7 linked regions of the Homo sapiens genome follow. The protein of the gene in region 5 purifies or fractionates together with the protein of the main gene of each other region. This does not show direct contact. Each region holds a gene or a part of one and is shown on either strand. Other genes may lie near its edges. The genes, in order: ZNF385A, CDK5RAP2, HRNR, DHX15, CEP57, DSC1 and PRKAR2B.

The links.
Region 1: the proteins of CEP57 (region 5) and ZNF385A purify together in Homo sapiens (affinity purification with mass spectrometry, with the first as the bait; one large-scale study listed by BioGRID). This does not show direct contact.
Region 2: the proteins of CEP57 (region 5) and CDK5RAP2 purify together in Homo sapiens (co-immunoprecipitation; 2 studies listed by BioGRID and IntAct, with this or other methods). This does not show direct contact.
Region 3: the proteins of CEP57 (region 5) and HRNR purify together in Homo sapiens (affinity purification with mass spectrometry, with the first as the bait; one large-scale study listed by BioGRID). This does not show direct contact.
Region 4: the proteins of CEP57 (region 5) and DHX15 purify together in Homo sapiens (affinity purification with mass spectrometry, with the first as the bait; one large-scale study listed by BioGRID). This does not show direct contact.
Region 6: the proteins of CEP57 (region 5) and DSC1 purify together in Homo sapiens (affinity purification with mass spectrometry, with the first as the bait; one large-scale study listed by BioGRID). This does not show direct contact.
Region 7: the proteins of CEP57 (region 5) and PRKAR2B purify together in Homo sapiens (affinity purification with mass spectrometry; one large-scale study listed by BioGRID and IntAct). This does not show direct contact.

The regions. Positions count from the first base shown.
Region 1 is NC_000012.12:54,374,734-54,378,233, reverse strand, and holds part of ZNF385A (zinc finger protein 385A), read left to right. Parts: intron 1-2,279; coding exon 2,280-2,390; intron 2,391-3,500. UniProt on the Homo sapiens protein: RNA-binding protein that affects the localization and the translation of a subset of mRNA. May play a role in adipogenesis through binding to the 3'-UTR of CEBPA mRNA and regulation of its translation.
Region 2 is NC_000009.12:120,573,668-120,577,167, reverse strand, and holds part of CDK5RAP2 (CDK5 regulatory subunit-associated protein 2), read left to right. Parts: intron 1-3,500. UniProt on the Homo sapiens protein: Potential regulator of CDK5 activity via its interaction with CDK5R1. Negative regulator of centriole disengagement (licensing) which maintains centriole engagement and cohesion. Involved in regulation of mitotic spindle orientation.
Region 3 is NC_000001.11:152,214,194-152,217,693, forward strand, and holds part of HRNR (hornerin), read right to left. Parts: coding exon 1-3,500. UniProt on the Homo sapiens protein: Component of the epidermal cornified cell envelopes.
Region 4 is NC_000004.12:24,526,975-24,529,764, reverse strand, and holds the end of DHX15 (ATP-dependent RNA helicase DHX15), read left to right. Parts: coding exon 1-164; intron 165-1,723; coding exon 1,724-1,841; 3' UTR 1,842-2,290; downstream 2,291-2,790.
Region 5 is NC_000011.10:95,793,498-95,796,997, forward strand, and holds part of CEP57 (centrosomal protein of 57 kDa), read left to right. Parts: intron 1-723; exon of another isoform or gene 724-1,036; intron 1,037-2,018; exon of another isoform or gene 2,019-2,044; coding exon of another isoform or gene 2,045-2,062; intron 2,063-3,500. UniProt on the Homo sapiens protein: Centrosomal protein which may be required for microtubule attachment to centrosomes. May act by forming ring-like structures around microtubules. Mediates nuclear translocation and mitogenic activity of the internalized growth factor FGF2, but that of FGF1.
Region 6 is NC_000018.10:31,135,357-31,138,856, reverse strand, and holds part of DSC1 (desmocollin-1 isoform Dsc1a preproprotein), read left to right. Parts: intron 1-3,500. UniProt on the Homo sapiens protein: A component of desmosome cell-cell junctions which are required for positive regulation of cellular adhesion.
Region 7 is NC_000007.14:107,051,205-107,054,704, forward strand, and holds part of PRKAR2B (cAMP-dependent protein kinase type II-beta regulatory subunit), read left to right. Parts: intron 1-3,500. UniProt on the Homo sapiens protein: Regulatory subunit of the cAMP-dependent protein kinases involved in cAMP signaling in cells. Type II regulatory chains mediate membrane association by binding to anchoring proteins, including the MAP2 kinase.

The sequences.
Region 1 (3,500 bases), on a different chromosome or scaffold from region 5:
ACATTCCACCTGCACAGGGATTGGGCCCAGGAGTCCTCACTTTCATCCTGGTGTCTCCTTAGTTCCTGGAGGAGGGTGGGAAGCACCCACCTGACTCCACTGCTGCCCTCTTCCCCACTCCCCACTCCCACTCCTAGTTGGTGTTTATGGACTTAAACCAGGGGAGGGGGTTGTGCAAAAGCTAAGGTTCTCACCCTGGAGGAAGGACCCAGGTAGGGCAGGAACCATTCTCATGGTATGGATGTTGGGGTGGCCAGTCCACAAGTCATCCTCGGGGTACTGTGTCCTCAGCCCCTCTGGAGAGCAGGCTGGCATGATGGGGCAGAGCATAGGCAGAACTAGGAGACTCTGCTTCCCCCTTCCATCCCACTCCTCTCTCCCTACTGTTTTCATCCAACTTGGGTTTCCTGGCCCAACTTGAGTTTCTGTTTGAATTCCCATTCCCCACCCAGCATGTGAGGAAGCCCAGGGCTGAGGAGAACTCTGGAACAGAGTTGGGGGTCTCTAAATAGGAAGGATTAAGGCCTGGAGACTGGGAACTGAGAGCAGCAGTCTGTCTCCCCTTTCTGATTAAAGACTGTCTCCAACTTGGTCTGTCTTTCTTTCTGCCAAACACATCATACATTTACACAGATAAACACACAGCTGAAGATTACACCACCTGACCATTCATGGTGCCATCAAAGCCCCCGACGCAGAAATGTTGATATATAAATGATGTACGCACAGTACATGACACTTATTCACACTCCACCCATGCACAGATTGATCACAGCCTGCCTAACACACACAGACACACCCGTTCTCCTGTTTGGCTTTTCCCTGGATGTGACTGGGGCTTCTGGGAAGCTGAGGTAAAAAAAAGTGAGCCCTTAGAGAGGCTTCTTTCCAACCAAGAGTAGGCCAAGAGATTGACACTTGTCAGTCAGACCAGTTGTCTGAACCCAGTCCTGGTCCCTGCCTTCAGCACTACCCAAATGGAGAGTGGATGAGGCCACCATCTATTTCACAGGGATACGAAAGCCCATTTCCTGACATTAACCCCACCCAGCCAGTGAAACTACTGGTGAGAGGAAAGGAGAGTCCAGAGGACAGGGCTTTCCAGACTCTTACTACTTTCCCCCACTTCTTGTTCTCTCACCAGTGTCTCATTGGAAACCCTAAAGACCTGTCACAGAGATGGGCTCGGCTGAGGAGATAAGGACCCCAAGTCCCCAGCAACTATTTTTCACTTGATCCCTCCACCCAGAAGATAAGGTTTTGTCCTAATTCAGTCCCATTCTTATGAGAGAGCCCAGCCATCCCCCAATCTTCAGTCTCAGCTGCATTCCAGGCTTTCCTCTCCCTAGCTGCCTAGAGGCCAAAAGGGAGGAGAACTGTTGAGGGAGGCAGTTTTCACACCTCTGAGCCCCTGGTTTTCATCCCCTGATAGCAGAAAGCCTCAGAGAAACTCCCGTCCTCTCCCTTACTCATGTGAACTCTTGGCAGGAGACTGCAAAGACGTCTGCTGACCCAGGGTGGGGACAGGGATGGTTCCTAATCCCGCCCAGCCCCACAGCTCTGCCCTAGAAACCCTGATGATCAGGGAGAAAAGGTTCAGAAGATCCCTGGGCTGCCTCGGGCCAGCCCAGCTGCTTAGGTCCCCCCATTTAGTCCCCATGATTCACTAGAGCTCCTACTCTCTCCTGAGTTCTTTTACTCCCTCTAGAAGTTGCTGCCCTTAAGAGGTCCAGAGAGTGTGTGTGTTAGGGCGACCAGGGATCCAGAGTTGGGAGGCTGGGAACATCTGTCTCCTGGGACTAGAGGCTGGGCTTGGTGATAGTCTTACCCCAGAGTGGAGGCCCAAAGGGCTCAGAGGCTTCAGCTGAAGGCCCTAGGATCTAGGGTGCTTTGGGACTTCATGTCAGAGGCCTCTGGTGGATTGGCTTCACTGTAGGAGATAAGTCAAGGTGACACAGTTGTATGTTCATGGTATGATGGACCAAGGCAGGAATCCAGGTTCAGATACCAGATCTGCTATTAACTCATGGTGTGACGTTGGGCAAACCACTTCTATGTCCTGTAAAATGGGAGCATTGGGCCAGTTATCGATCAGGTCCCTTTCAGTGCTATGAAGATTGGGCTAAGAGAGAATCAGAAGACTGAGGCTCAGATCCCTCAGGCATATTAAGGGATAGAAGGGGTCTGGGGACCTTGGTTCAACACAGATATCTGTGTTGGGGGAATGCTGGACATGAGTTGCGCTAGGGTTCCCGGCTCACCCCAGCCTGCCTCCACAGATGGACCCTGTGCAGAAGGCTGTGCTCTCCCACACTTTTGGGGGACCCTTGCTCAAGACCAAGCGGCCCGTCATTTCCTGTAATATCTGTCAAATCCGCTTCAATTCTCAGGTAAGAAGCCAAGCTGCTCATCTACCCAGTGGGTGGGGCAGGGGCAGCAGGGGAACTTGAGGGAGGGCAGAGGCTGGGTGAGAACACTTACTCTGGTTGAGGGGCAGGGATTAAGGGGATATTAGGCAAAGAGCAGGGAATGGGGATACCGCAGGAGGGGCAGGGTCTTGTGGAAGGCACTGGAGAGACACAAGAAGTTGCTGTGTATTTTGACATGAAGTAGATCAGTCCTCTAAAGTTGACCTCTCCCTCCCTTGAGACTTGGGCATCCGTGGTTCAGAGCTTCTTGGAACATAGGTGGCCATCAGTGTCTGAGCAGGAGTGTGGCCTCTGGCCCACTGGTTCTTGGGTATGGGGCAGAGTTAGGTCATTGGCTCCCCCACAGAGCCTCTGTCCTCTTTGGCCTCTGCTAAACTCCTCCTTGGCCCACCCACTTCGCTCTAACTTTCTGGCTTCCTTCTCTCTCCACCCCATTTCTACTCTCCTCCCTCCAAATCACACACAAGGCCTGGCCCCTACTCTTATCCCATGGGGCTTTCCCCTGGGGAGAAGCTACCCCAAACCCAAAACCCAGATGTTCAGCCTCCCAGATTTCCTCCCTCTGAGGCTCCACTGGGACTCTGTGGAGTGTGTGTGGCTCTAGAGGGGACTTTGTGGGGTGCAGGCCCTGAGAGCTTTTGGAGAAAAACAGCAGAGCCTCGTTCTGCTGAGTAGGGGAAAATAAAAGCATGTTCTGTTTCTCTACCCAGTACAGAGACACACACACACACACACACTCCATACTACTGGGCTCTGCACACTGCTACTTTACCCCTGGGCTGTCAATCTTCTTTTCCTGCCTATCCACACCTTTTATTTCTGCCCTTGTCTGGGTGACCCTGTGCCTCCAGGATGGTACATTCTTAGCAGGGGTATACATGGGAGTGGAGCAGGGTGGGGAAGGGAAGACAGGACTAACCCAGCATCAGGCCTCTGCTTTAGCTTGGACCCCAGGCATCCTGTCTATCAACCCTGGCTCCACTCACTGGTGGATGGTGGAAGACTAGAGGGGCAGGGAGCCAACAGCAGATAGCCCTTCCCACTTTTTGCCCTACCCTCCCCTCCCCCATC
Region 2 (3,500 bases), on a different chromosome or scaffold from region 5:
CTGGTCTTGAACTCCTGGCCTCAAGTGTTGTGCCTGCCTCGGCCTCCCAGAGTGCTGGGATTATAGGTATGTGCCATTGCGCCCAGCCTGTCTCTATGATTTTGACTACTCTAAGTGTCGCGTATAAGTAGAATCATACACTATTTGTCCTTCTGTGACTGGTTTATTTAACTTAGCATTATGTCCTCAAGGTTCATGCGTGTTGTAGTATGTGTCAGAATTTCTTTCCTTTTTAAGGCTTTTGTTTTTAATTTTTTTTAGAGACAGTCTTGCTCTGTTACCCATGCTGGTCTTAAATTCCTGGGCTCAAGTGATCCTCCTGCTTCTGCCTTGCTAAGAGCTGGGATTACAGACACAAGCCACTGTGCCTGCCCTTCACTGATATTTTTATTGTCCTTTTGATTATAGCCATCCTTTGGGTGTGACATGGTAGGTATCTCATTGTGGTCTTTTTTTTTTTGTCGTTGAGACAGAGTCTCACTCCCTTGCCCAGGCTGGAGTGCAGTGGCGCAATTTCGGCTCACCGCAACCTCTGCCTCGTGGGTTCAAGCGGTTCTGGTGCCTCAGCCTCCCAAGTAGCTGGGACTACAGGCACGTGCCACCATGCTCGGCTAATTTTTATATTTTTAGTAGAGACGGGGTTTCACCATGTTGGCCAGGCTGGTGTCGAACTCTTGACCTCAGGTGATCTGCCCGCCTTGGCCTCCCAAAGTGCTGGGTTACAGGAGTGAGCCACCCCGCCTGGCCCTCATTGTGGTATTGATTACATGTTAATGGCTACTGATGTGTTGAGCATCTTTCCATGTGCCTTTTAGCCATTTGTTCACTTTCTTTGGAGAAATGTGTATTCAAATCCATCGTCCATTTAAAAAACGTGAATATATTTTGACCCAGCAATTCCACTTCTTGTCATCTATTCTAGAGAAATCCTCATACTTGTGCATATGGGACCTTATAAGGACATTCATATGACATTGCATGTAAAAGAAAAACTTGGAAACAAATTGAATTATCATCAGTAGGGGATTGGGTAAATACACATCCTTTCAAAAGTATCTTTCAGACTGTGGCCCGTTGGTAGCTCATGAAATTCAATTTAGTAGGTTGCAACCAGGATTTAGAAAAATAGAACAGAATAGAAAACATTTCAAGGATGAAGGGTAATAATATTTCTTCTGTGGCTCATGGTCAGTAAGGTTTGAAGAACACTGCTGTAGAAAGCTTTGTAGGAGTTGAAAACTTTGAGGCATATCTATTTGTACTGTCATGAAAACATCATGAGGGCATATTAAGTAGAAGAAGGATGTTGTAGCATGATGTATACTGTTTGATTGCATGTGTTTTTAAGCAGCAAAATTGAAACTATCTATGTAAAAACACATAAAAAGTTCTGGAAGTTATAGGTCTTTTTGAAAACAGTGATTACCTCCTAGGCGGGTTCTAGATGGGAGCGAGGAGGAGCCAAGGAGAACTTTAGGCTTATCTGTATTTTTTTAAATTTATGTATTTTTCTCTAATTAAGAATAAAATAGAATGAAAAAGGGGTTGTTAAAAGACAAAAGTGAGTTTGTTTGTGTAATCGTTGTCAGAATGTGATATCTGGTCTCATCCATGACTCTCATGAAACAATTTGTCAAGGAGACATAAGACCCCTTGGGTCTTATGGTTTGAGTGGACAATTGTTGCTGGCATATGTAGGCATAGAAAGAGGTCAGTCCTTTTCGGTAGCAATAGAGCAAGATAGGAGGATGAGGTGGTGGAGCTCAGGTGAAGGTCCATTCAGTCACTCAAAAATTATCCACAAACAGTTGCTACAGCTGGGCGCGGTGGCTCACGCCTGTAATCCTAGCACTTTGGGAGGCTGAGGCGGTCAGGTCACCTGAGCTCAGGAGTTCAAGACCAGCCTGGCCAACGTGGTGAATCTCCATCTCTACTAAAAGTACAAAAAATTAGCCGGGCGTGGTGGTGCATGCCTGTAATCCTAGCTACTTGGGAGGCTGAGGCACGAGAATCGCTTGAATATGGAAGGTGGAGGTTGCAATGAGCTGAGATCACGCCACTGCACTCCAGCCTGGGCGATAGAGTGAGAGTCTCCAAAAAACCAAAACAAAACAAAACAGTCGTTATGATGGCTGTGCCCTGTGCTGAGTGATGGAAATTTTATGCCTCAGTCCATTCGGCCCTTAACCACCACCACACCCCTGCCACCCCCAACCTCCGGGAAGGCGTCAGGGGTACCAGGGTGGTGTAGGTTCACAGCAGGGGGTTTAAAGTCAGGCTGGCTTGGAGTTTCCAGCCTATTAACTTTTTGGTCTTTGTTTCCTCATTAAAAAAAAAAAAAAAAAAGGCAACATTAAAAAGTACCACCAGCCGCAGAAAGACTATAGTGAGGATTAAACCTGATTTTAGTTTCAAACATTCAGTTTAGAAAATGGACTTTAATCCTGTGGTGAGGATGAAAGGGAAGGCTGCCTGTCCTGTGCTGAGTGTGGTGCTTGTGCAGCATGGGTGCCCCATACAAGGGCAGGTTTCTTAGATTGTGCTTTATTTTGCACGTGAGGAAACTGGTACTCCACCATGTGTCACATTTATATAGGAGCTTTGGGCAGTCCACACACAGGCTAGCAAGTGGAAAAGACACTGGGATCCTGGATTTTGGGCTTGGCTTTGCCACTAACTTTTGTGATTTTGAGTAAATAAGTTCCTAACCCATTTCTGGGTTTCAGTCTTCTCATCTGTGGAATAAGATCATATCTGAGCCCTTTTGTTTTGCTTACATTGTCATTTCTCGTGAGTATCCCTGAGGCCCCAGCCTTAATTATAAGGCTACAAGTGAATGATTAGAATGGAAAGAGGGAGCTGCTTGTGGCTGGAGGTGTAGTTGGAACTGACTGGAGGGTGCAGATGACAGATTCATAGCATTTTAAAAGTGGGTAGGTAAAGCCCGAGTGGAAATTTGGCAGGATCCAAGCAAAAATTTCTGCATTACATAGTGGTTTTGTCTAAGAGTTGGGATGTCAGATGTCATTTTTCAAACTTCAGTGTTTGCCTGTAGGAAGCTTGTCTAAGACCAGAATCTTTGGCTTTGTTTGCTAGGTACTTTTCAGCTGTGATTGATCTTGGCTTGAGTTATTCATGGGCAGTTTTAGCCAGTGGGAGTTAATGTAATGGCTCTGGTACCCGGAGAGAACCCCAGATTGAGAATGCAGGACCAGACCTTAGGCTGAGCTTGGCCAATAACCTGGTGTATGTGACCTTGGGCTTCTGGACCACCATCTGCAAAAGGTGATGGTTGAACTTGATTTTAGTTTTTAAAATTCAGTTTAGAAAATTGACTTTGTCCTTTTAGTGATGTTTATTGGAGGAAATTGAGAATTATATAACATTAAAAAGGAAGAAAACCTCTCATTTCCCTACTAATGATGATTTTTAATATTTCAGTATATTTCCTTTGTCTTGTTATATATCTGTAGCCCACCTATTTCCAAAATGGACTTGAG
Region 3 (3,500 bases), on a different chromosome or scaffold from region 5:
TAGATCCATGTTGACCGTAGCCAGAGGACTGTCCTGAGCGAGACTCTCGGTGACCTAAGCCAGAAGAGTGACCGGAGCCAGACTCATATGGGCCACGGCTGGAAGACCACCCTGAGCCAGACCCATATGGGCTGTAGCTGGAAGACTGCCCAGAACCAGACCCATGTCGGCCACGGCTAGGGCTAGGAGACTGGCCAGATCCAGACCCATGTTGGCCGTGGCCCAAAGACTGACGGGAGCCAGACCCATGCTGACCATAGCTGGAAGATGAACCTGAGCTAGATCCGTGTCGTTCACCCCTAGATGACTGTCCTGACCTAGAGCCGTGTTGTTCGTAGCTGGAGGAGTGACCTGAGCCAGATCCATGCTGAGTGTAACCAGAGGACTGCCATGAGCTAGACTCGTGGTGACCAAATCCAGAAGACTGACCTGAGCCAGACCCATGTCGGCCACTGCTGGAAGACCAACCGGAGCCAGACCCATGTTGGCCGTAGCTGGAAGAGTGCCCGGAACCGGACCCATGTCGGCCGCGACTAGGAGACTGGCCAGATCCAGAGCCCTGTTGGCCATAGCTAGAAGACTGACTTGAGCCAGAGCCATGCTGACCGTGGCTGGAAGACTGACCTGTGCTAGATCCCTCCTGGTCAAAGGTTGATGACTGTCCTGATGTAGAACCATGCTGTCCTTGGCTACAGAAGTGCCCTGAGCCACTACCATGCTGACTGTAAGCAGAGGAATGTCCTGAGCCAGACTCATGTTGACCAAAGACAGAAGAGTGACCCGAGCGAGACTCATATGGGCCACGGCTGGAAGAACGACCTGAGCCAGACCCATGTTGGCCGTGGCTGGAGGAGTGCCCCGAACCGGACCCATGTCGGCCGCGGCTAGGGGAATGGCCAGATCCAGACCCTTGTCGGCCGTGGCCCGAAGACTGACGGGAGCCAGACCCATGCTGACCATAGCGGGAAGACGAACCTGAGCTAGATCCGTGTCGTTCACCCCTAGATGACTGTCCTGATCTAGAGCCGTGTTGTCCGTAGCCAGAGGAGTGACCTGAGCCAGACCCATGCTGACTGTAACTAGAGGACTGCCCTGAGCTAGACTCGTGGTGACCAAAGCCAGAAGACTCGCCTAAGCCAGGCCCATGTTGGCCACTGCTGGAAGACCGACCGGAGCCAGACCCATGTCGGCCATAGCTGGGAGACTGCCTTGACCCAGACCCACGCTGGCCGTGGCCTGGAGACTGGCCAGATCCAGAGCCCTGTCGGCCATAGCCAGAAGACTGACTTGAGCCAGAGCCATGCTGACCGTGGCTGGAAGACTGACCTGAGCTAGCTCCATGTTGGCCACAGCTCGATGACTGTCCTGATGCAGAACCATGTTGCCCATGGGTAGAGGAATGACCTGAGCTAGATCCATGTTGACCGTAGCCAGAGGACTGTCCTGAGCGAGACTCTCGGTGACCTAAGCCAGAAGAGTGACCGGAGCCAGACTCATATGGGCCACGGCTGGAAGACCACCCTGAGCCAGACCCATATGGGCCGTAGCTGGAAGACTGCCCAGAACCAGACCCATGTCGGCCACGGCTAGGGCTAGGAGACTGGCCAGATCCAGACCCATGTTGGCCGTGGCCCAAAGACTGACGGGAGCCAGACCCATGCTGACCATAGCTGGAAGATGAACCTGAGCTAGATCCGTGTTGTTCACCCCTAGATGACTGTCCTGACCTAGAGCCGTGTTGTTCGTAGCTGGAGGAGTGACCTGAGCCAGATCCATGCTGAGTGTAACCAGAGGACTGCCATGAGCTAGACTCATGGTGACCAAATCCAGAAGACTGACCTGAGCCAGACCCATGTCGGCCACTGCTGGAAGACCAACCGGAGCCAGACCCATGTTGGCCGTAGCTGGAAGAGTGCCCGGAACCGGACCCATGTCGGCCGCGACTAGGAGACTGGCCAGATCCAGAGCCCTGTTGGCCATAGCTAGAAGACTGACTTGAGCCAGAGCCATGCTGACCGTGGCTGGAAGACTGACCTGTGCTAGATCCCTCCTGGTCAAAGGTTGATGACTGTCCTGATGTAGAACCATGCTGTCCTTGGCTACAGAAGTGCCCTGAGCCACTACCATGCTGACTGTAAGCAGAGGAATGTCCTGAGCCAGACTCATGTTGACCAAAGACAGAAGAGTGACCCGAGCGAGACTCATATGGGCCACGGCTGGAAGAACGACCTGAGCCAGACCCATGTTGGCCGTGGCTGGAGGAGTGCCCCAAACCGGACCCATGTCGGCCGCGGCTAGGGGACTGGCCAGATCCAGACCCTTGTCGGCCGTGGCCCGAAGACTGACGGGAGCCAGACCCATGCTGACCATAGCGGGAAGACGAACGTGAGCTAGATCCGTGTCGTTCACCCCTAGATGACTGTCCTGATCTAGAGCCGTGTTGTCCGTAGCCAGAGGAGTGACCTGAGCCAGACCCATGCTGACTGTAACTAGAGGACTGCCCTGAGCTAGACTCGTGGTGACCAAAGCCAGAAGACTCGCCTAAGCCAGACCCATGTTGGCCACTGCTGGAAGACCGACCGGAGCCAGACCCATGTCGGCCGTAGCTGGGAGACTGCCTTGACCCAGACCCACGCTGGCCGTGGCCTGGAGACTGGCCAGATCCAGAGCCCTGTCGGCCATAGCCAGAAGACTGACTTGAGCCAGAGCCATGCTGACCGTGGCTGGAAGACTGACCTGAGCTAGCTCCATGTTGGCCACAGCTCGATGACTGTCCTGATGTAGAACCATGTTGCCCATGGGTAGAGGAATGACCTGAGCTAGATCCATGTTGACCGTAGCCAGAGGACTGTCCTGAGCGAGACTCTCGGTGACCTAAGCCAGAAGAGTGACTGGAGCCAGACTCATATGGGCCACGGCTGGAAGACCACCCTGAGCCAGACCCATATGGGCTGTAGCTGGAAGACTGCCCAGAACCAGACCCATGTCGGCCACGGCTAGGGCTAGGAGACTGGCCAGATCCAGACCCATGTTGGCCGTGGCCCAAAGACTGACGGGAGCCAGACCCATGCTGACCATAGCTGGAAGATGAACCTGAGCTAGATCCGTGTCGTTCACCCCTAGATGACTGTCCTGACCTAGAGCCGTGTTGTTCGTAGCTGGAGGAGTGACCTGAGCCAGATCCATGCTGAGTGCAACCAGAGGACTGCCATGAGCTAGACTCGTGGTGACCAAATCCAGAAGACTGACCTGAGCCAGACCCATGTCGGCCACTGCTGGAAGACCAACCGGAGCCAGACCCATGTTGGCCGTAGCTGGAAGAGTGCCCAGAACCGGACCCATGTCGGCCGCGACTAGGAGACTGGCCAGATCCAGCCCCATGTCGGCCATAGCCAGAAGACTGACTGGAGCCAGAGCCACGGTGGCCATAGCTGGAAGACTGGCCTGTGCTAGATCCCTCCTGGTCAAAGGTTGATGACTGTCCTGATGTAGAACCATGC
Region 4 (2,790 bases), on a different chromosome or scaffold from region 5:
CATTTAGAACGAACAGGGCATTACTTAACTGTGAAAGATAACCAGGTGGTTCAGTTGCATCCCTCTACTGTTCTTGACCACAAACCTGAATGGGTGCTTTATAATGAGTTTGTTCTAACAACAAAGAATTACATCCGGACATGTACAGATATCAAGCCAGAATGGTAAGTACACCTTTTGTTCTAACAGTTTTTTGTTAGTACTTTGCTCAAAATGGAACCTGACTGTTGCTAGAGTCATGGCCTTGCATTCACTCATTGAGAATTTATATTTCAGTGTGTAGGTATGAGGGAATTGACTGGATGGTGTGATTAATCTTTCACACCCTTCCTTTGTTAAGTGGACAGTGGGATTGTTGATATTTATGGGCAGGATTTGAAGCCAAATGTGAAGTTACATTTGAATAGCATGAAAAGTTTCTTCAGGGGCTGGGCATGGTGGCTCACACCTGTAATCCCAGGACTCTGGGAGGCCAGGATGGGAGGATCACTTGAAGCCAGGGGTTCAAGACCAGCCTGTGCAATATAGCCAGAATCCATCTCTACTAAAAGATATATAGGTGTGTACAAAAATTAGCTGGGCATGGTGGTGCTGCACGTCTATAGTCCCAGCTACTGGGGAAGCTGGGCAGGAGGATTGCTTGAGCCCAGGAGTTTGAGGTTGCAGTGAGCTATGATCATGCCACTGTACTCCAGCCTGGGTGACAGTGAGACCCTGTCTCTCAGACATACTTTTAAAAAAGGGTTTTTTTTTAATTTTTTTAATTTTTAGAGTTTCTTTGGAGCCATTCTCTTGCTGTTGTGATTCTCAAGTCAGTACTGTTTCTTGCTTGCAGAAATCTGTTTTTTTTTGTTTTGTTTTGTTTTTTAACATTTTTTTTGTCCCATTACAATTAGCCCTCAACTATTTATTATTTATATATTGGTTTTTAGGAACTGTGCAGGCATAAAAATGATAGCTCTTTGTGTTTTAACATACTAGCTTCTACAAAATGTAGAGTAAGAACGGATTGTTTTATTTTAAGCAAAATAACCCTCACCTTCATGGTTTTTTGTTTTATTTATGCCAGAATCTATTCTATAACCTATGACAGGAAATGTCAGCCAAGAGTAGTGGGACTGAAGGCACATATTCTAGGTGCTGTCACCGCTTTATATTGTGCAGCTGCTTTCTTATACGGATTTGGGACTTTTGACACTTAAATTGTGTAGGACATTACCATTTTATCTTAAACGCTTTGTTGAGAAAAAAATTATATAGCTAAACTTTATAAAAGATTTCAGTCAAGTGTATTTTGGGGGTATAGAGTTACAGTTATTAAAACATTGAAAATGAAAAGATCCAATCATTTGAATACCACGATGTTTCCTACACAGAACCTGTTATATATTACTATATCCTTGGAGTGGCAAATTAATAGTGTGCCAGAGTAAAGAAATCAGTGACTTTATCTGTTATCTTTACATTAATGTATCTTGAGGGGTTTGTTATTAAGTTTATGGTAAGTCCAACATCAGAAAATTCACATCTTACTAAATAAAATACTTAACACATTTCTAAAAGTGCTATTTGTAAGGATTAGTTATTTGTATTTTTCTGAGACTTGAATTCATAGATTTGCCTTGGTTCATCAGTATATTAATGAATAATGCCTATCCTATTAACAACTCCAGTACTTCAATTAAATGTTAATTTGGAAATTTTTCTGCCCACTTCTAAACAGGTTGGTGAAAATTGCCCCTCAATATTATGACATGAGCAATTTCCCACAGTGTGAAGCAAAGAGACAGTTGGACCGCATCATTGCCAAACTTCAATCCAAGGAATATTCACAGTACTGAATTCAGTGCTTAGAACTGAAGTTATTGAGAGGACAGCTTTAAAAGATGAATGAACTCAAAAGTTCGAGTTGTGCTCTTCACGTTGGTTCGATAATGGCCTTTATTTGAAAGCTTTTTAATTTTTCTTTACAGTAAATATTCCATTCTGATTTCATAAATTAAACATTTATGCCTCCCTTTTGTGTTGACACTGTAGCTCATACTGGAAAAGTCGATCAATGTTTTGCAGTTTATTGAAAGTAGTTCTATATATAACAATGTTATAAGCATTTCTTTAGAAATGGTTGAAAATGCTTCTAAAATGTGATTATCGACCATGGTATGCATGATCGTTGTAATTGTTGACATTCCTTTTAGAAGTTGTGAAATGTTACAACTTGTGCTTATGTAGACACAATCTTCTGTCTCAGTACAGAGGCACTGACTTCAATAAAGTCTATTTATACTAATTTTGGCCAAAGCCCTTTGGTATCTTTGTTCTAGTCTCTAAGTATAGTTGTTTTTCAAGTGTGGAGCTTTTTTATTATTATAATTATACTGTTACTACATATTTAGTATCTTTCTACCAGGAGTACTCCTTAGGAAAAGTAGCTGTTAAAGCAGTATTTTTAAGAGCATGGCTTAGCGCTTTGTTAGGTTAATCAGGATGTGATCGATCTAAAAGGGGTAAAATGTGTGTAGTGATCATTTGAAACTGGACCCCAAAAGAGAGAATAATGAAAGGAGAGCTCTCTACTTGTCTTTCTTAGAGTTCCTTTCATAAGGCTCATAATTTATTAACTACATTTTTGTCAGATGTTTTTATTATACTTCTAGCTTCTCAAACACGTTTATTAGTATTAGGTAAGAGGAAAGCATATTTTAGATCTCAGTTTAACAAAATTCTTAGTGATGGAAGTTTTATGCAGTATACAAAATAATTTGTATAGTGTGTTAAAATGTACATTTG
Region 5 (3,500 bases):
TAAATATAAGATTTACTTTTTGAGAATAATAAAATGAATACCTTCATGTTCCTCTGTGTCTTCTTTCTCCTTCCCACACCCACCCACTACCACGTATTTTAAGATTATAATGTATGGTATTTATATAGGACTACCTGGCAAGGCATAATCCTTAAAGACCCTTTTCATGCATTAACTCATTTAATCCTCACAATAACCTTCTGAGATTGGCATTAATATTTCCTTTTTCAAATGAGCAAAATGAGGCACAGAGAGGTTGAGTCAAAGTTCTCTAGCTAGTAAATGACAGTATCTTAATGGGCTTTGGATTTAATGGGTTTTGCTGTTCATTTGTTTGCCAGATATTAGAAACAATCTTGTATTCATTGTTATATGCTGTACATGGCAAATGTTTCTCTAGAGTGCAGTTCTCGAAGTATGGTCTCACAACCCTTGGAGATCTCCAAGACCCTCTCAGAGTCTACAAGATCCTTCTGTAATGACCACGTTTGTGGTAGACTAGATCTTTAATAAGTCAAACAAAATAACATATCCAACAGAGCGAATGCAGAACTAGATAAGAGAATCCAGCATTCTTTTTTTAAAGCAAACATTAAAGAGATCTGCAGAAATGTAAAATAGTGCCATTCTTTTCACTAGATCTTTTAGAGTGTAAAGGGGTCCTGAGAGAAAAAGTTTGCAAGGGGCAACTCTAGGGCAGTGATTTTTCTTTTTTTTTTCCAGACCAGAGGCTGGGCTCTGGATTACAGCTCAGTAGTGGGTCATGGAATATGTACTGTGACTCAACCCGTATCATTTTCAAGAAAGAAGAGAGAGAAAATCGTTCAGCAAATATAACTGAATGAATTATCTGGTTCACAGAGTATGTGCGTCTTCAGCTTTACTCGGTCATACTAAATTGTTTTACCAAGTGATTATACCAACAACCCTCTTTATTTTATGTCCTCTTAAATGGATGGTATCGTCCCACTTGTAAATTTTTGCTGTGTGTGTGAAATGGTATCCTATTTTCTGATTTGTGCACCTCTTATCATTGGTGAGTATGCACCCTGTTTTTTTCAAACCTTTACTAGTGTGTGTGTGTGTGTTCTTCTGTGAAATACCTGTTCATGTCCTTTGCCTGTTTTTGTCTGTTAAGACTGTTCCAGAGACATCTTGGCTGGTCTTTGATATCTTTCGATTAATAGTTGTTGTTACTTTTAATGTAAAATTTGTTAGTCTTTTTATAATTAGTGATTTCTGTTTAAGAAATTCTTCCTTTCTCCAAGGCCTTGGTTGTATTCTTCTATATTTTTTTCCTACTTATTTTAAAGTTGAAGCCTTTTATGTCCTTAATTTACTTGAAATTAATTTGTATGCTGTGAGATAGGGATCCAGTGTAACGGTTTTACTTAAAATACACAATTGTCCCCACACTACTTGTTGAAAATTCATCCTATCCCCAATGGTTTGCAATATGTTCATTTCCATATGTGTATGGGTGTGTTACCTGGCTCTTTGTCCCTTTGTTGTATTTGTCTCTCCTACTTAGATACCCACTTGGAGGTGGGGGGGTCATTTACCTCCTTGTTACTCAAGAGAAATATTAGCTATTGTTGGTCCTTTGCTTTTCTTCAGTAGAAATTCTGGAACCTGCTGTTGGAATTTTGGTTTAGATTTTATTGAATTTCTAGCTTAATTTGGGTGTAACTGATACGTTTAGGATATTGACCCTTCTGTCTGAATGTTATGTTACTCCATTTATTTAGAACTTTAACATTTTTCAGTACTTGTATAATTTCATGTCTTGTATATTGTTCAGTTTATTTCTAGTTTTTAATTGTGTGATATATATTTTCATAAGTTGCATTTTCTAATATATAAAATTACTGACTCTTACATATCTATTTTACTCAGCAATCTTCCAGACTTAATTCTCATAATTGAGGATTTTTTGTTTTGTTCTATTTAGTCATGATACGAAATTGGGATTCTTCCTTTTCAATCTTAATAGCTGTTATTCTTTTTTTTTTTCTTAGTGTGCAGACTAGGGAAATGAAGTACAATGTTGACCAGAATTGATGTAGGTATCTTTGTCTTACTCCTGATTTTAAAAGGAATATTTCAAGTTTTCCACCATTAAGTATGTTTGCCATCTTTTCTTGTAAAACTTCATATTATCATAAGGAAGTAAGTTTTTTAAAAAATAATGGCTGGATGTTGAATTTTATTGAATGCTTTTCTACATTTGTTGACGATCGTATTGATATTTAGTTTGGAACTGTTGCATTGATTGCACTGCTCAGAGCTGTACATCATGTTCCTCCACCATTGGACCTTGACTTCTCCAATTTTATTTCCTCAACATGTGTACACAAACTCTTTTTTTCAGCTAAACTGATGTATTCATTAACCTGGAAATAATTGCCTTTTATATCCATTTCTAGCTTGCCTATCAGAATACATGTCAATCTACAAGACCCAGTATCGATTTCAGCACTAATAAAGACCTTCCTTTACCATACTGTTTTGAAGCAGTGTTCTGTTGAATGCATCTGAATTTAATTTGCACTTAGTCTCTATTACATCCAATTTACCAGTTCCCACCTACTGTTTTGTATTTGAGTTTTATCTAGGTAATATCTTGCAGCTGTGTTGCATGTGCCACTTATAAAGAAAGCAAGTAATATGCATTTTTAAATTATGCTTCATACTTCACACAGTGTCATAAAAAGATGTTCAATAAATATTTGAATTATGTGTTCCTAAATGAGATATTTGCCCTAAGAACTAAAGGCTGCAGGAAAAGCTAGTGATCAGGTTAAACATTTTGCCTTTAATCCTGAAAGTTTCTCCTACAATCATATTTTGGTTGGAATAATTTTTACTGAATGCTTAGGGTCATGGAGAGATTAGTGGATTGGGAGTTAGAATTGGGCTCCTTTCTACGCAGCCTTCCTATGATATTTGTGCTATTTGTTAAATATAAAGAAGCCCAAAAGCTTTTGGTGATCTCTTAAAGGGTTGTAGTGATTTTGTTGAAAAGGATAATCTTTTATAAGTAATGTGCAGTTTCCTGTTTTGCGGAGGAAATGTATAGTTAATATTCAACAGATTTATTGAACATAATAAAACTCCTTTATTAGAACTTAATTTCTCCAGCAAAAATTCTACACCAACTGGGTGTACTACAATTATTTTAATTCTGACACTGCCCAGATGTTGCTCAGACCCCCATACATTAAGGGGCTCCGTTTCACAAGACTGCCTGCCCCCAAGTCAGTCAGAGTTCGCAGAGCATCTGCATTTCTGCTCAGCTGACTACAAATTATGGGATTCCTGCAGCTTTCCAAGAACGGCTCACAGTACTCAGGAAAGACTGTTCTTAAGCAATTTCAGTTTTATAAAGGACACAACTCAGAAACAGCCAAATGGAGGAGACATAGGGCAAGGTGTGAAAGGGCTTCTGTATCCTCTGGTGCAGCACCTTCCCAGCATATCAGTATGTTCAACAATCTAGA
Region 6 (3,500 bases), on a different chromosome or scaffold from region 5:
GTTTGACTACCTGCCTAATCCAAGAAGGTTTCCACTCTTTTTACATGCATATGCTGGATGTTCAAAACAAACTAGCTGATACAATGCTATGGGTTTTTTTTTCCTGTGTCTATTGCATTTCTTTAGAAGGAATGGTTGACTGTATTAATAAATACATATGAAATTCCATGGTAATTAATATAAGTTGGTAGTAGTGAAAATGTTCATGCTTATTTATTTGTCCCTTTGTTTTTTTTTTTAATAACAAAATGCAAACAATGTGTTCTCAGATATTATACCCCTACTTTTTTCTATGTTGGCAAAGAAGACTTTATGTTTACTCATTTATTCCCCAACTGGTGGTTTGTCTATTAAGTTCTAAGTATTAGACAAGCTGACATGGAAATTAAGAATGTTAAGATAAGGCCAAATTCTTACACGATATCAACTATAGAATTATTATAGTTTCACAAGAGATTCTATGATGTGAGAACTTTCCTCAAAAAGAATGTATGAATATTATCAGAAGTGGCGATCAGTTAAGACCTGCTCAGATTAAGGATGAAAGAGAAGAGATTACAGAAATGCAGAGGCCTAATTTTTTAAAAATAAAATGCTATCTGGAGAGGAGAAAATTATGGAGAACAAAGTATTTAAAAAGTAACTTTGTTTTTTGGTGCTAAAAGACAAAGTCTGTAAGCACAGTGAATGTAGTGTAGAAAATAAAAAGCAAACTTTAACAAATCTACATTCCAGGGCCGTAGATAACCTGGGTGTGTTTAATAAAAAAGTAAAGATAAGGATGTTACACATTTTAGTGAAAAACCATATAGTGATATGATGGATTTTGTTTCTTTGAACTTTAATCCACACACACACACACACACACACACACACACACACACACACACATTTTGCTCTGATGCTCATGATTATTCCTGGATGATGATCTAGGTATTCTACCTGTCTTAGAATCCAACTTTCTTTCTTGTGTCAATCCTCTGTCAGTCTGGCTGATGTCCCTGCTGTCAGTCGAGAAAGCATTGTTTTACATACCTTCCACCTAGAGTAGCATTGCTCCTCCTGTCTGAAATTCAGGCCCCTTAACTTCTTCAAATAAATGGCAATGACAAGGTTTGTGATTGTTTCCATTAGTCTGGATTCAGTTCTTCTCTAAATACCTTTTGAACTGGGGATAACAATTATCATATATGGTGTGGCTTCTGTAGAAAAGGCTGCTTTCATTGTTTCTCATGTATATTCTGTTCTCCTAACAAGCTTAATTATGAGTTCAATTTTGTATAAAGACCCTTTTTCTTTGTAAATCGTCCCTTTCCAAGTATCTGGCAGAAAATGTGGTATACATATGCACAGTGCAGGTGCTGATATTTGTCATTCCTTTGTTGTTTGAGAGTCCTATGAATCTCCACGTTATACATTTCACTGCAAAAAGCTTTACAATTCTAGGGACATAATTAGCACTTGGGAAAACTGATTTTAATGTAGAAAATTGAGATTAAACATTTATTAAGTGCTTCTTTATTTTTCCCTTCTGTAAGAAGGATTTTCTTAAGAGAACAAATATTTAAGGGTTGTCATGTACAAGTGGCAAACATTTTGCATGTATAGTCCAAAAAGAACATGAACAAATTACAGGAAATCATTAGGAGGCATATTGTAGCTTAATAATTAAAAATTTAAATCTTTTAACAATTAATTTTAAAATTTATAGAGTAGGCTGATTTATAATACAGTGATTCTAGTTACTGAAACATTTGAGTAGCAATAAAAAACGACTGCTTTCCAGAATTGCTGTTGAAGTATTATGAAGATTTTTAGTTAACCCAAGATGTACTTTCTAGCTCTGTGATTGGTGTTTCTTACTCATTTATACTTGATGTTTGCTTATGTGCTTAATTTAAAGTAAATTTTAGAAGTAAATAAACACACCAATGACTTCATCATGCTCAGCTATTATCAGTAATTACTTATTTTTGGCTGTTTACCTCTTCCCAGGGGTAAAATAAAAACTTACCATCAACCTCTTGTAATTTTTGATATCTTCTAAGACAAGCTTGTCCAACCTGTGGCCTGCAGGCAGCATGCAGCCCAGCGTGGCTTTGAATGTGGCCCAACAAAAATTCATAAACTTTCTTGAAACATTATAAGATTTGTTTGCAACATATATTTTTTAGCTCATCAGCTATCATTGGTGTTAGTGTATTTTATGTGTGGCCCAAGACAATTCTTCTGTTTTCAGTGTGGCCCAGGGAAGCCAAAAGATTGGACACCCCTGTTCTAAGACCTTCTCAGCTTTGTCTTTGATTGCCTTCCATTTAAATCATTTCAAGCATCTTTCATCTGTTTTTATCAACATGCTTAAAGCAGAGACTGTAATAGAAAATAGTAAGTTATGGGATAAATGTTGGTTGAATATGTGATTAAATAAATCTTGATTTGCGTTACTATAATTACCACTTTTTTTGGATTTTTAAAGTGTGTTTTCTTACGATTTTTCTATAAAGAGAAAGGCTTTCTGCTTAAATTTTAAAAGGTGAAATTATAGTATATATATCAACTCATGTGTAGTGTATGCAACTAAATTTTTTACTTTATAAGGCCTCTTTTTCATATTATTCATTTCTTAGTTTGCTGATTTTAAAGTTATTACTTATATTCAACTTTATTTGCTATTTTCTGGCAGTCTCAAAGTATTTATATGCTATTGCAAATTTCTTCAACAAATAGCTATATCTCTCTTTTATTTCTGGATATTTTTAAATTTGTTCAGGTAGTTTTAAAATAGGCATAAATAGTAGTTACTTTATACAAACAATTAGTTTAAAAGTCACTGAATAAATTAATTTTGTAGTTATTCAACAGAAAAAATTCTTTTGAAATACACTACATGATATGACTTAGGGTTATTTCAAATTAAAAAGAAAAATAAATTATATTTGCATGGGAGTTATAGTAGTCTTTATGATAAATTCAACATACATGTTTCAAAATGTGGACCAGTATTTAAAGCAAAAACATGAAAAATTACATCAATTACCTTTCTGTTTATTTCAATTTTGATATCTTATCATTTATTGTAGTTTATTATCCTTTTACAAATGGTGGGATTTGACATGTTTCTGAACTTCATTATCTCTTAAACACAAATAATGGGCACTATTTTAACTAAAAATACTATGTGTGAAGTCTTAGGCCAATAATAGTGGCAATCAACAGATGAGTACGAGACAGTTCCTGTTGTCAAGAACATATGAATTGCATTAGGGTAGAGATGAAAACTTATTTTTCTGGCTTATTCAATTAAATGTTTTCAAGTATAAAAATAGGAACTGCATTATGTTCAATGTGTCAGTATTAAGTTATAGTTAGCTGGGAAATACTGGGCAAATCACTAGGCTCTCAAGGTGAATACAACTTACTATGCTACTTTTGCAGTTCAGTGTGTGAGCCAAAGTATTAGCAAAGAGTTCTGAGAAAGCACTGGAATATGGCTACCATTG
Region 7 (3,500 bases), on a different chromosome or scaffold from region 5:
GTCTTCCATCAAGTTGATTGATAAGGTTTAAAAGGATGGGCTAAAGAAAAGTACTTTTGTCTTCAGAATTTCCAGGTTTTTTTGTTCTTTGATTCTTTTTCAATGAAGTGAAATCTAATATTAGACTATATTTTCCTATCACTTGCTTAAGAAGAGACAATGGAAAAGAAACAAGAATGCAGTGATTTTTCTGAATTGAATGAATTGTTACTGTGTTCTTGATCCTGTTCTTGTCCTTCCTGTCTTATCTATATCATCTAGTTGTGGTTGGGACAGTCACAAAATCCTACTCTAAAAACCTCACTATGATGCTTATCATTATTTTATGAGAGCGAATTTTGTGCTTCACAAATTCAAAATGACTCAGACGGTTTCATTATGTAATTTTATGGAAAGAATTTGAGCTAAAATTTTCAGGTCATGGCTTACATGACAACAAAACAATCAAATAAGAAAATCAGAACTATAAACAGTTGGTGTAACATTTATAAATGTTTCAGCAATAGGCTCTGCCATGTGTAGCTTAATATGTTTGGAAACTAAAAAAAAAAGTCTTTCCAGTTGCTGCTGTTTAAAAATGTTTCTTAATTAAAAAAAAGACAAAAGGTCAAAATGTAAACACATGTTCCACATAAAAGTGAAGCCAAGAAGATATACTGTATACAGTTATTCCTGTATCTGTTTGACTAAGGATGACATTGTTTAATTTACATTAGCTGTTCCAAGACAAAATAGTCCATGGGAGTGATGTTGAGGGGAATTTGGGGGGTAAAAAGAGAAGGAAAAAAGCCGTTTGTTCCATTTGTTCTAATATATTTCAGTTACACCCAAAGAGCATCTTTTTCAAAGGTCATGTTGAATTAAAACATGATTCGGCTGTTTCGTTCTCATTATTATAGAAAACTAATGTCTTTTAAATGGTGTCCTTTTAGGCCGGGCACGGTGGCTCATGTCTATAATTCCCAGCACTCTGGGAGGCCGATGCGGGCGGATCACCTGAGGTCAGGAATAGGACACCAGCCTGGCCAACATGGTGAAACCCCATCTCTACTAAAAATACAAAAATTAGCTGGGCGTGGTGGCGGGCGCCTTAATCCCAGCTGCTTGGGAGGCTGAAGCAGGAGAATCGCTTGAACCCTGGAGACGGAGGTTGCAGTGAGCCGAGATTGCGCCACTGCACTCCAGCTTGGGCAACAGAGGTATACTCTGTCTCAAAAAAATAAATAAATGGTGTCCTTTTTATTTAATACTAGTTATTATTAACATTTTTGACTACTGATGTATCAGATGTGGAACAGTGCTTTACACATTGTCATCTGAACAGATGCTTTACACATATGTGATTTAGTCTTCCCCAGAGTAATTGGTGGAATCAAGGTTTGAACCTGGTAATCTGACTTCAGGGTCTTCCTCTTCAACCACGGTTTATACACTTCATTTCAGTAATTCTTTTAGCAGTAACGTGGTTGAAAATAAGCACATATCAAAAAATAAGCTACCTACTTTTCCCTCTAAAAGTTTGCAGGCTAGCCCTGCATTGATCTCTCCCTTTTACAATTTGCATTCTCTGTCTATTCAACCCAAATTAGCATTTCATGTACCTTAGAAACTCAGTACATTTGTTTATTTTATTTTATTTTGTTTTTGACAGAGTCTTGCTCTGTTGCCCAGGCTGGAGTGCAGTGGTGCCATCTTGGCTCACTGCAGCCTCTGCCTCTGGGTTCAAGTGATTCTCCTGCCTCAGCTTCCTGAGTAGCTGGGATTACAGGTGTGTGCCACCATGTCTGCCTAATTTTTGTATTTTTGGTAGAGACAAGGTTTTTCCATGTTGGCAAGGCTGGTCTGGAACTCCTGGCCTCAAGTGATCCCACCTGCCTCAGCCTCCCAAAATACTGGGATTATAGGCAAGAGCCACCACACCCAGCCTACATTTATTTATTTTAGAAATAATCACCTCATGTACTGAGCTGCTTAATTCTCTAAATTTATTTTATTATATACCTTTATTAGCAAAATATATTTGAGTGTACACCCCAATATATGTTGATAAATTTTATACATGTGACAATATATTGACTTATATGTATGATAAAGCTTCCTACAATATAAATTTTGAAAGGAGAAAGTAAAAAGCAATTCTAAGCAAGTTGTAATTTTCTCCTACATCCCAACATATAGCCTTATACACTGTTTTGGCATACATGAACCCCGTTTTGGAGACTACAGCTGTAAACAATACCACTTAAATTGATACTCTAGTAATATATAAAGTAGCCATGATCAATTTTGGTTCCCTGATTCAAGCTTCTAGATTATAAAGAGTGTGTGTGTGTGTGTGTGTGTGTGTGTGTGTGTGTGTGTGTGTCTTTTTTAAAAGACAGTCACTCGGTAAGTTAATTGACTCAACAGAAGTTGGCAGAATACAGAGGAAAATTCTATCTTATAAAAAGGAAGTAAAACTACGTTACCTGAAGGGGAAAATCCAGGCTTTTTCTTTTAAAACCTGTTTTCCTGTATATACCTTGAATTCCAATTGTATAGTGGTAATGTTTTTGGTGCAACATTTGTGGATGGGACAAAGAGAATCGTATTATAGTTTTCTGGTTAGGAATCAGTAAATTATGGAAATACCAGTCAGAATTAGAAGAAAGTCTAAAGTTTAGAATAGTTGAAAAGAAATGCAATTTCATAGAGTATTTCAGGTTATTTTGTTAGGAGAGAGATCGTTCACTATTTGCTTTCTTGTAACTTTTGAAAAATGTTTAGCATGTGCTTGGATTACCTATTAAATAAGTGTAAAAATACATGAAAGAAAGGCAATTCTTTTGTAAATATGCATTAAGTAGTAAATAAAACACAGTAGGCCGTGTGTGGTGGCTCACAGCCTGTAATCCCAGCACTTTGGGAGGCCGAGGCGGGCGAATCATGAGGTCAGGAAATCGAGACCATCCTGACTAACTTGGTGAAACCCCGTCTCTACTAAAAATACACACAAAAAAATTAGCCTGGCGTGGTGGCAGTTGCCTGTAGTCCCAGCTACTCGGGAGGCTGAGGCAGGAGAATGGCGTGAACCCGAGAGGCAGAGCTTGCAGTGAGCTGAGATCGCAGCACTGCTTGACAGAGTGAGACTCCATCTCAAAACAAAACAAAACAACAAAACAAACAAAAACCACGGTATATAGCGGCACATGACATGATTCTAAATTGATATAGCCAAATATTCTTGTCTTAAGTCATTCTCTTGGTCCTGAATTCTCACTCCCCTCTCCCTGTCTTTCTGCTAAATCTCACTCTTTTCCCAAAGGTTTAGTTTATATTTTACCCTACCAAATATTTTTGCAAGTTTCCCTCCTTGACGTTAATACTATCAATATGGTAGGATGAATATGGCCTCCATCAGTCAACTTTGCAGATGTCAAGGGTCCTCAGTCTAGGTAGGCAAGAATGTGCAGGAATATACCCTCTCTTTCTAAGTCTTTCCTGTATGTGTTGTGCTTTGC